2 separate regions of the Homo sapiens genome follow, and region 1 is linked to region 2. The links come from fine-mapping of genetic effects on gene expression. A gene starts in region 2. The other region holds a variant in brackets. All regions are shown on one strand. Distances are between the middles of the regions. Region 1 overlaps CD274 (CD274 molecule). Region 2 holds the start of PLGRKT (plasminogen receptor with a C-terminal lysine).

Region 1 (5,350 bases), 28 kb after region 2:
ACAACTAATGAGATTTTCTACTGCACTTTTAGGAGATTAGATCCTGAGGAAAACCATACAGCTGAATTGGTCATCCCAGGTAATATTCTGAATGTGTCCATTAAAATATGTCTAACACTGTCCCCTAGCACCTAGCATGATGTCTGCCTATCATAGTCATTCAGTGATTGTTGAATAAATGAATGAATGAATAACACTATGTTTACAAAATATATCCTAATTCCTCACCTCCATTCATCCAAACCATATTGTTACTTAATAAACATTCAGCAGATATTTATGGAATATACCTTTTGTTCCATGCATTGTAGTACTCATTGGATACACATAGAATAATAAGACTCAGTTCACACTCTTCAGGAAACAGATAAAAAACTAAGAAACAAACAAAAAACAGGCAATCCAACACCATGTGGGAAATGCTTTCATAGCCGGGAAACCTGGGGAATACCTGAGAGGAATACTCAATTCAGGCCTTGTTTCAGGAATCCAAATCCTGGCACATCAGAGCTGCTTCCCTCTTTCCAGGGTGGCAGGAAATAAATGGAACATATTTTTCTATCTTATGCCAAACATGAGGGACCCTTTCTCCCCGGTGCCTCTCCCAAGGTAGTCTACAATATTTCAACTCTAGCAGTCTGCTTAGTGCATAGAACATGAGGCTGTGTGTCCCTGGGCAAATTACTAGACTTCTGTGTGCTTCACTTTCCCTGTAGGATTATAATCTACTGAGCAAGCTTATTGTAAGGGTCAGATTAGCAACAGTGTATGAAAATGATTTGAGACCATTGCCTGCACAAATTCAACTATTTTTTTTTATCTCACTACTCTACAGAAGTAGGTAGGGTGGGAGACAGAGTCTGATGAGAGGCTCAGAATGTGAAAGAAAGTGAGGCGAGTGAGCATGATATTTAATATAAACACAAAGATATTCTGAGAAGAGCTGCTCACTGCCCCCTCCCCCAATACATGTTGATAGGAAAATGCCACGTACTTCAGCAAAAACAACTGAAAAATTAGATAGAAAAGTCAATCAATAGGAAAAGATAATCCAGGACGGTGTTGTGAACAGAAAGAGGGGGAAAAAACTTTAGAAAATGATGGGGATGCTCTTACTGGGGTACGAGTCCTCAGGTATTGAACTGGCTTTCAGTAAAAGCTAGATTAGTGGGTTCCTGCCATTTACAAGCTGTTTTATGACAACTTACTTGTTGGGTGGCCTACAGTAACTCACCTAACTGCACTGAGTCTGTTTCCTCATCTGTAAATTGGGGATTTTTTTTTAAATACCTGGCATGCCTAACTCATAAAGTTGTTCTGAAACTGAAATAAAACATACGTGAACAGGCATTGTAAACTGTAAGTTACGGAAAAAGCTGGCTGTTGTTGTGTCTTTAAAGTTTCACCTGGGTAGTCAAAGATGGATCATGGGTCTCAGTGGAGAGCTGAGCCAGGCAGGAGCTGACTAAGGGTGAGAGGTGGGAGTTAGCAGCCTCTGAACATCTGTGTACCATGGGACCCCCTTTCCTCCTGCATGGTACCCCAGACAAGGAGCCTAGTAAGAGATACTAATGGCTTGTTGTCCAGAGATGTTCAAACTGCAGAGAAAGATAAGACAACAAGCATTGGCCTCCAATCATGATGACAGATAGGAGGAGGTGGGAGCTCCTTAGCAGTGCTGGTTGGCCTTCCATGTTCTACTGTGGGCCATCTCTGCCATGTACTGTAGGCTACTAGCTTCTATATTAAAGAATGCAAGAGGGGCCAGGAGCGGAGGCTCATGCCTGTAATCTCAGCACTTTGGGAGGCCAAGGTGGGCAGATCACTTGAGGTCAGGAGTTTGTGACCAGCCTGGCCAACATGGTGAAACTCTGCCTTTACTAAAAATATAAAAATTAGCTGGGTGTGGTGGTGTGCACCTGTAATCCCAGCTACTCGGGAGACTGAGGCACAAGAATTGCTTGAACCTGGGAGGCGGAAGTTGCAGTGAGCCCAGATTGCGCCACTGCACTCCACCCTGGGCAACAGAGAAAGACTCTGCCT[C/CA]AAAAAAAAAAAAAAAAAGCAAGAGGAAGTGAAATAATCAAGGCCGCCATTTAATAGTGAGCAGCCACTCCATGTGGTACTGTGCAAGCACATTATAAATATTAGCCTCACAAGAAATGTATTAGCATTTGTATTTTGTACACTGGTTAAGTATCTTGCCCAAGACCTCAAAACTGGTTAAGGGCAGCAGAATTTAGCCCCAGCACCACCTTTTCAAAGCCTGGGCTTCTCACACTTCTCCATGCTGTTCCCATTTTAACACAGGTATCTCGCCATTCCAGCCACTCAAACTTTGGCATTTAAGAAAATTATCCTAAAGCTAAACTAAACTTCAAGGATGACCATTCTCCTGACCCCTTCCCATCAAAATTTTATCTTTAGTCAGTTTGTTTTCGTTTTGTTTTGTTTTTCAGAACTACCTCTGGCACATCCTCCAAATGAAAGGACTCACTTGGTAATTCTGGGAGCCATCTTATTATGCCTTGGTGTAGCACTGACATTCATCTTCCGTTTAAGAAAAGGTAGTATTTCCTTAATTGCAGTGGTCTCCACTGGGGGTGAGGAAGGGGTGAGAATTGGATCATGGCTGCAAGGAAACCCGACTTAACCTCTGCAAGGTGGTGCAAAGGCATTCCACTGTTCAACAGCAATTATATTGAAGCTGAGTGGGATCACTGGGTGAAGATGAAGCGTAAGGGGTGAGGGGCAGGAGAATGGGTATGGATGGAGGTAGAAGATGCAGTGTCATACAGTTTTTTTCTATCATGAAAATAACCACAGACTTACAGAAGAGAAAGAGCTAAAATGCCCGTCATTTTCAGTTGCATTTTAGTCTTGCATTAGTTGCAACCAGCTGGTTTCTGGGTACCCTAAGTAATAAAAATAGTTCCTCTGTAGAACTGTAGTATGTTTACCATAGAGTATTTTGCAAAATTTTTGGTAGAGGATGTTACATAATTTGCATGTGTTCATTTCTCCATTTACCTGTGGGAACAATTAAAATCCAGGAAAATGAGTATATTCAAATAATTTCCTCCCATTTAAGATGAGTCAGAGTAAATAATTCCTCCAATACTTAGAGAAGTATACCAAGAGATCCAGTGATGGTATAGAGTTGTCTGATGTTAAATAGGGAAGTAGAATATGGAAGGGGATTCCAATAGTCGTTGAAAAATTCCCCATAACCCCTTACATGGGGGAAAGTAGTGTTAACTGAGAGAGTAGAGATAAGCTGTTTCCAAAAATTATATTCTTAACAGGACTGAGATAGCCAGAATATAAGGATCAAGTTTCAATGACAGTAAGATCCTGAGATGGAGTTGATTTGCACAAAGAAATAATTGTTGCCAGCATGCATTTTGAATATTTCTCTGGAAAAAAAGATTAGTTGGCAGTAGAAATGGATAGAAATCAATAGATATTAAAATACCTCAGAATTTGGTTCATCTCTGGGAAAAGATGAAAAATAAAAGTGTATACTCCTCAAGAACATCTAGGATCAAAAGCATGTGCCCTACACTATTGAATTAATTAACCTCATAAGTTGGGACCTGTGGAATAAGGATGTCCACCAGACTTCCTAGGGATTACAAATGTTTCACAGAACTTGAAATTTAAACTTGGGTCACTGTATGGGATGTAGAGCTGTGCTATATGGAAATAAAAATGATTTCTTTTTCTCAAGGGAGAATGATGGATGTGAAAAAATGTGGCATCCAAGATACAAACTCAAAGAAGCAAAGTGGTAAGAATATCAGAAGGAATTGGGAAGTAAAAGTCAAAGGAAACAAAAAGCTAAAGCAATAACAAAGAGAAATCCATCAGTCATAATCTCCTCTCCTTTTAAAGAATGCTGGTTCCCCTTTGCCTCACAGCTAACACAAGAACTCCTCCACCGTCTGAGGAGGTTTAGGAGCAGGGAAGGGGAAGGAGTCAGCTTCATTTGCTAATCTTCTGTTGCCCTGCACCCTAGCAGCTCCTTGCAGCAGGGGACAAGGATGACTTAGGTGGATGGATAATTAATTGATTCTAAAATATTGTGTGTCAGTATTGTAATACTATGTTAATTGCACCATGCACGGTATCTCATTTAATCCCCCACCCCTTGCCATTACCAAAGAGAGAGAGAGAGAGAGAGAGAGAAATACTAGAATTTATCCTCATTTTACAGTAGAGAAAACAGAGGGTCAAGAAGATAATGTAAAGTGCCCAAGAACACACAGCTGATCACAAAAATCAAGCTTGGGGGCCATTAGCCTAACCACAGACCCTTACTCTTAACCCATCTGCTTCAATCCATTTTGCTACAAATGTTTACATTTATAAGCAGGGCAGAAAAACCTCATCCAGGTTATTGAACTAAGAAGAAAGTTATATTAAGGTTTCTAATTTTTTTAATGTAGTTAGAAACCAAACTTAACAATGAGCCCAAGTTTAAAGCAGTCTAATTAACCTGGACAAGCTCAGGCAAGTTTCATTCTGTGGCCCATAGCATCATCTGTGTTGTAAAGCTAAGTAGCAAATGTTGTTTGGGTCATGCTGGGGGACAAGCCATCCCAATTTGCTCAGGACTGAGGGGTTTTCCAGGATATCATGTAAGGATAATTGGGTACAAATATAACCTGCTGCTTTCTCTCATTTCAAATTTATCATTTATCATATCAGCAACTATGAGTTATGTTTTTTATTAGATTTCTTGTTACTTTTTCCCCAGACCACTTCCCATGAAATTAATATACTATTATCACTCTCCAGATACACATTTGGAGGAGACGTAATCCAGCATTGGAACTTCTGATCTTCAAGCAGGGATTCTCAACCTGTGGTTTAGGGGTTCATCGGGGCTGAGCGTGACAAGAGGAAGGAATGGGCCCGTGGGATGCAGGCAATGTGGGACTTAAAAGGCCCAAGCACTGAAAATGGAACCTGGCGAAAGCAGAGGAGGAGAATGAAGAAAGATGGAGTCAAACAGGGAGCCTGGAGGGAGACCTTGATACTTTCAAATGCCTGAGGGGCTCATCGACGCCTGTGACAGGGAGAAAGGATACTTCTGAACAAGGAGCCTCCAAGCAAATCATCCATTGCTCATCCTAGGAAGACGGGTTGAGAATCCCTAATTTGAGGGTCAGTTCCTGCAGAAGTGCCCTTTGCCTCCACTCAATGCCTCAATTTGTTTTCTGCATGACTGAGAGTCTCAGTGTTGGAACGGGACAGTATTTATGTATGAGTTTTTCCTATTTATTTTGAGTCTGTGAGGTCTTCTTGTCATGTGAGTGTGGTTGTGAATGATTTCTTTTGAAGATATATT
Region 2 (5,381 bases):
ATTCTCTCCAAGATAGCATGTACTAAAGTTCTCAAAAATGGAAAAACATACAGATACTTGAATGTCCTGGAAAATGTACTTTTTAGATGAATGCACAGTAGTGTCTATCTTATGTAAGTTTTTAAGTGGGCTGTCAACTCTACAAGGGACAGAACTCCAATTTTTATTCTTAATCCAACTGGGTGGGTACAGAAGACCTTGAGTTAGTTGGTTGCATTTCAGAATACTGCAAAACTCAGGGGAAAGTTACAACTGCTCTACCCTTCTCAACAATGTTGCTGATACCTTTTCTCTTTAATAGGCTGTTGAGTAGGGTTGTGAACCTCAGGTAAGAATGGCCAGTCTTAATTCATTACAGCCAGGATTCCCAAGTATTCTGTGGGAAGCCCAGCTAATGGGGTTCCAGGTGAGTGGGAGCTGCAAGCAAGACTTCAGTGACTTCCTTGTATTCTGATCAAGGATACACCTGGAGTTTCAGGGCTCTGTGCCAGAGTCAGCTTCAAAGCTGAGCACAGGATACCAAACCACTTACCAGGATGAAGAGGCACAATGCTGAAAAGGCCTGAGGTGGTGAGATTTCCCTCCCCTTCTGCCACTGTGCCACTCGAGCACCCTGTGACCAGAGTTAGAGGCCACTCACTGACAGCAGGGTGATTTGGCAGTTCTTTCCTTTCTCCAAACCCTAACAGTCCCATGCGACTCATCTCTAACAGCAGACCAGAACCTGCCTGAGGTTAGGAGCGAGATATTATCCATCTTGATAGTCTCCATGGTGTCTACTTCCCCTAAATATTTGCACAAAGCATGAGAGATACAAGAAAAACTGTGGCTCAGGCCACTTGCCATTACTTATTTTTCTTCTGAACATAGGAGTGGATGACTAAATTTTTACACCTGCTGCAAACATTTATAAAGAAAACAACTGTACTCTAGTACTATTCCTCCACATACCCTGTATATCACAGAGCTGTGTGCTTTCAAGTGCTCCTGTTTGTAAGGGGTTAGGATCTCCCCTGAAAAGAGAGAGTCCTCATGTCAATCATCTGGGAAAGAAACACTGTCTGGGAAGTTAGTATTTAGATTTACCTCTTTCTGGGCCTTGCTCTCCTGGGTCTGGACTTGTAGTCTGAATGTGTTAGAGGACGCTCCCAGGTGGAAGGGTTAAAGGTGGAAGCCAAGCAGGAAGAAGAGCTTCCTTATGGGAAACCACACCTGAGAATAAATAAATGCATCACACCTTGTAAATTTCACCCTGGAGTTCAGTATTTTCAACATTCTTTCCTTTCCCAACTTCCCCATTCCTGGCAAAGTCATTTCCCAAAGTCTGGGAATATTCCGTAGGGTGTCCAGAACACTTTCAGCTATCTCCTCTTGCTCACAAAATATGTATCAGAAAATAAGCAAAATTGACCTTGCAATAGGGATAACTTTGATTTCACTCACTTGTATAAGTTAAGTCTTTTAAAAATTCTAACACTTTTCACCAGGGGTAAAAAAAAATGTCTTGCTACTTATACAATTTTAAACATCACTGTGTCTCAGAGTGATGTTTTGCAGAGAATGCTGATTTCAATCCCTCTGTCTTCATTTTCCCTTTGATTCCTTCTGAGATCTTGGAAGGGGTCTTTAATGCTTCAGCCCTGCCTCAGGTGAGCTATAGATTACTATGGGAAGGTGTATTTCTGGGGAGGAGAAGTGGTGCCTGCAAGTTCCAGACAACCTTTCTTCCGGTCACCCGTGAGTACCTAGATTTGATTTTACTTGGGGGGACATAAAAAATTAATTGCATGAATTCTGTCATCGGGATTACCACGCTGACTTATTTCCCGATCAGATGACACATTGCCTGAATGTATGACTGATCGTCTCACCACAGTCATTTTCAATATTTGCATCCCATTGAAATTAAGCCACATCCCCTTGCAAATTCCAGCCCAGAGCCCACAGCTTCCGGAGGTTTTCTGTAATTAACACCGCCCTTGCTCCCTGAGGCCAGTTACTGTAATTTAGGTATTCCCCGCAATAGTGTGCTGATTTCTGTTGAGAGCACTGTGCCTGTTTTTCTCAACTCTATTTTAAAGCTACGGAGAGATCCGGAGTCCACGCCAGGCGACAAGAACGCGCTCTAATGGAACGAAGTTGGCAATACCTATCAGCACCAGGGGCAGTGCGAGAGCCAAGAGCCGGCGCTCACGAGGAGCGGGCGCCCAGCGCTGCCTGGCAAGCCCGGAGCCCAGGAGATCGCGCTGACTGACATGGCCGGGCTGACCCTTCTCCCCACCCGCCTGCGGCCGGTGTTCACTCACTGGGCGGCGCTGGTGCCGGGACCAGGCGACCGGTACGCAAACCTCCAGGCCCGGGCTCCTTTCGCCCGCTGCAGGGACCGGGCCTCGCTCCGCCCAGCGTCGGGATTGGCGCCCAGACACAGTAGATGACGCACCTCAGCCAATTCGCGCAGCCCTCAGCTTCTTTAAAGAGCCGGCACTTCCGCCAGAAGCCGGGTGTGTCCTTCCGGGCCAGGCTCAGTGTTACCAGAGGTGGGAGGGGAAGGTCAAAAGAGGCAAATTCAAAGCCGCGGCGACTCAGCTGCCAGATTTTTGAGATGAGGCAGAGGAAGCGGAGTGGAATTCTCAATTAAAGGCCTCTGTCCCCTCATCTGTTAAATTGGCACTATTAAAAAGTCATAAAGATAAGACAGAAACGAGAAAGAAGAGAATTGACTGAAATTACCCATTCTTTTTTGAACAGAGCCGTCTTTCTCCCCTGCTGCTCAGAGAGATGTCGGTCTCGCCTCAACCTCACCAGCAATTTCTATCTTGAATAAGCCACGTCTCTCTCCCAGCCTGAGAGAATGCTTGAATTGTTGGCACTCTGTTCTTTGCTACCAAATGGCTTGGAAAAATAGCATGAACGTCACCAGTCTCTGGCCTTCAGGAAAGTCCCTGCTAACCACCACAGCGGTGGAGAAGGCGTCTAACTTTCTCCAGGCTCAGCGTGTGAGTGCACACCGCCCTGACCTCCTGGGCGCGTCTTGATGCTCTCAACAGCAGCCCTCAGGATTCTGGACTGTGGGTCCCACATTCCAGATACCATTTGTGGAATGGCTGGATGAGAAAATTGCAACAGCACCCTCATTTCCAGTTAAGGGAATGGGCGGGTTACCAGGAGGTTTGACACTCTTGAAGGGAGGTTAACAACTGATGCAAGAAGTAAGGAATCGTGTTTGAGTGCACAGACTCTAGCATAAACACACCTACCTTCAATTTCTAGCTCTGTCACTGTCACTCTGAATTTATCACCTCTGCAACAGGACTAAAGCCATCTAATTTATTGGATTGTGAGGACTAAAAGATAATATATGTGGGCATTTAGCACAGTGTCGGGCACATAGTTCGCCTTCCGTAACCAGTAGTAACCAGTAACAGCGGGGAGCTGTTAGTAACTATAGGGCTGAGGGGTGGGGGAAGGAAGCAGTTACTAAAACCAGGCGAGAGCGAGAGCGGTAGCTGTGGCTGTACGAGAGAGTAACCAACTGGAACCGTGTCGTTCAGTAGAGGAAAGCAAGCAATGCCAACTTTTCACCAAGTAAGGTGAGATTCTATAGTTGTAGCCAGTGCTGAGACGTCAGCCCAAAGCAGGGACAGAGTGGAGAAGACCCACCTCTCTGTTCTCCCAGCTCTGATATCCAGCTGGGGTCTTCCGCTGGCTGGATCCACCAGGAAGCCAGAAGACAGTGGAGCTAGGTCTGTGTAGTCTGTAGAGGTCAGCCTACTAGGCACAATGCCTGGAGGGAGAAATAGAAAATATCCAGCACACCATTTCTTTTTTTTGTTTGTTTTTACACTTTAAGCTCTAGGGTACATGTGCACAACGTGCAGGTTTGTTACCTATGTATACATGTGCCGTGTTGGTGTGTTGCACCCATTAAGTTGTCATTTACATTAGGTGTATCTCCTAATGCTATCCCTCCCCCCTCCCCCCACCCCACAACAGGCCCCGGTGTGTGATGTCCCCCTTCCTGTGTCCAAGTGTTCTCATTGTTCAATTCCCACCTATGAGTGAGAACATGCGGTGTTTGGTTTTTTGTCCTTGCGATAGTTTGCTGAGAATGATGGTTTCCAGCTTCATCCACGTCCCTACAAAGGACATGAACTCATCATTTTTTATGGCTGCATAGTATTCCAGCACACCATTTCTACAACCTTGGGTTTATTGTGTTTGGAAGCCTAGATCCAAAGGAAGGAATGCTGCCACTAGAAGACCCCGTCACTGAATTGAATTGAATTTCAATTCATTGATTCGAAAGCTGAAACTGCCCTCTGGTCACTTTGATTCCTCACAGTGACAGAATGGTATGATTCATCCCAAATACCAAAAGGAAATTGGGTTACATCTATATATTGAGGGCAAGAAGAACTATGCATGACACCTGGAGATTCACTGGGCACTTCTTAATACTGCCGTGTGCCATAATAATGATTATCAGATAACTGAAGTAATGCAGAAATTTCAGATCATGAAGAAATTAAAGTGTTGAAGCATACCAGATAAAAAAATCCTGATCTACCTAGGTGTTGGCATAGGGCAGGGGAAACATACATAAGTAAATGAGTAGGAAGCTATGATTATTAATTTTAGCCTTGCAACAAGCTCTAGAGGCAGGAATTATAGTAGCTCTCCATTTAAAATGTTAATTACTTCTTCCCTGACTCTCTTTTCCTATTACCCTGCATAAAGAGTAGTGGTGGAGATAAATATTACAATTTAGTTTCTGGGTGAGAATGTGCCTGAACTGACATCCCCTCAAGGCAATATGGCAGCTGATGAGGCTTGTTAAGGAAAATCAAAGCTGGACAATAGCTGTAGCAGTAAAAATAGATTTTTATTCAGCAACTTTTGAAATAGGGGGAAAGAGACCTTGGTAAAGAACTGGGCTCAATTCTGAATACAGTAAGGATAAGTGGGGATTTATAGCCGAGGAGCAGGTTGTGTGGATGGGGGTGGGGTCCGTGGATGGAAAATTACTAAGAAGAGACAGCAAGGGTAGGGGAAATCCTTGCTAAACTGACCTAACAGGATTCTTGCTAAAGGTAGGCCAGGGTAAGCAGACATCACCTGGGGGCTGGTGGGGGTAAGGAATTTGATCAGATATTGAGAGTGGTCAAACATTCAGGGTGGGAAGATCCTCTCTAAACTGACTTAGCAGGATTCTTGCCAACACTGATTCTGCAAGGATGAACACTGCAGCCCAAGGTCAATATCTAATCAAGGAGATGGCTTAGAGGAGCCTGACTAAAGTTTGGTCGAGGAGAAATCTTGTCAGACTCTGTCATTCTCATATGTAAGGGATGAGCTGCTCTTCATCTGAGCAAAGGAAAAGA

The links. PIP is the estimated chance that this variant, and not a neighbour inherited with it, causes the effect. A credible set is the group of variants that fine-mapping cannot tell apart.
Region 1: its variant is the best candidate, but not a certain one, in a credible set for the expression of PLGRKT in neutrophils (BLUEPRINT, PIP 0.60).

Annotation. Positions count from the first base shown.
Region 1 is chr9:5,463,043-5,468,392 of GRCh38, forward strand. It overlaps CD274 (CD274 molecule), which reads left to right. Exons shown (of 7, transcript NM_014143.4): 4 at 1-79; 5 at 2,457-2,564; 6 at 3,728-3,787; 7 at 4,798-5,350. The coding sequence ends at 4,820. All of the region lies in intron 2 of INCR1 (interferon stimulated noncoding RNA 1), which reads right to left. Among named protein-coding and RNA genes, the nearest start is that of CD274, 15 kb to the left of the region's middle. The variant C/CA (reference allele first, on the strand shown) is at 2,044.
Region 2 is chr9:5,435,483-5,440,863 of GRCh38, forward strand. PLGRKT (plasminogen receptor with a C-terminal lysine) reads right to left here and starts at 2,443. Exons shown (of 6, transcript NM_018465.4): 1 at 2,307-2,443; 2 at 1,087-1,212. RefSeq lists enhancers at 1,745-2,944, 2,000-2,089, 3,650-3,809.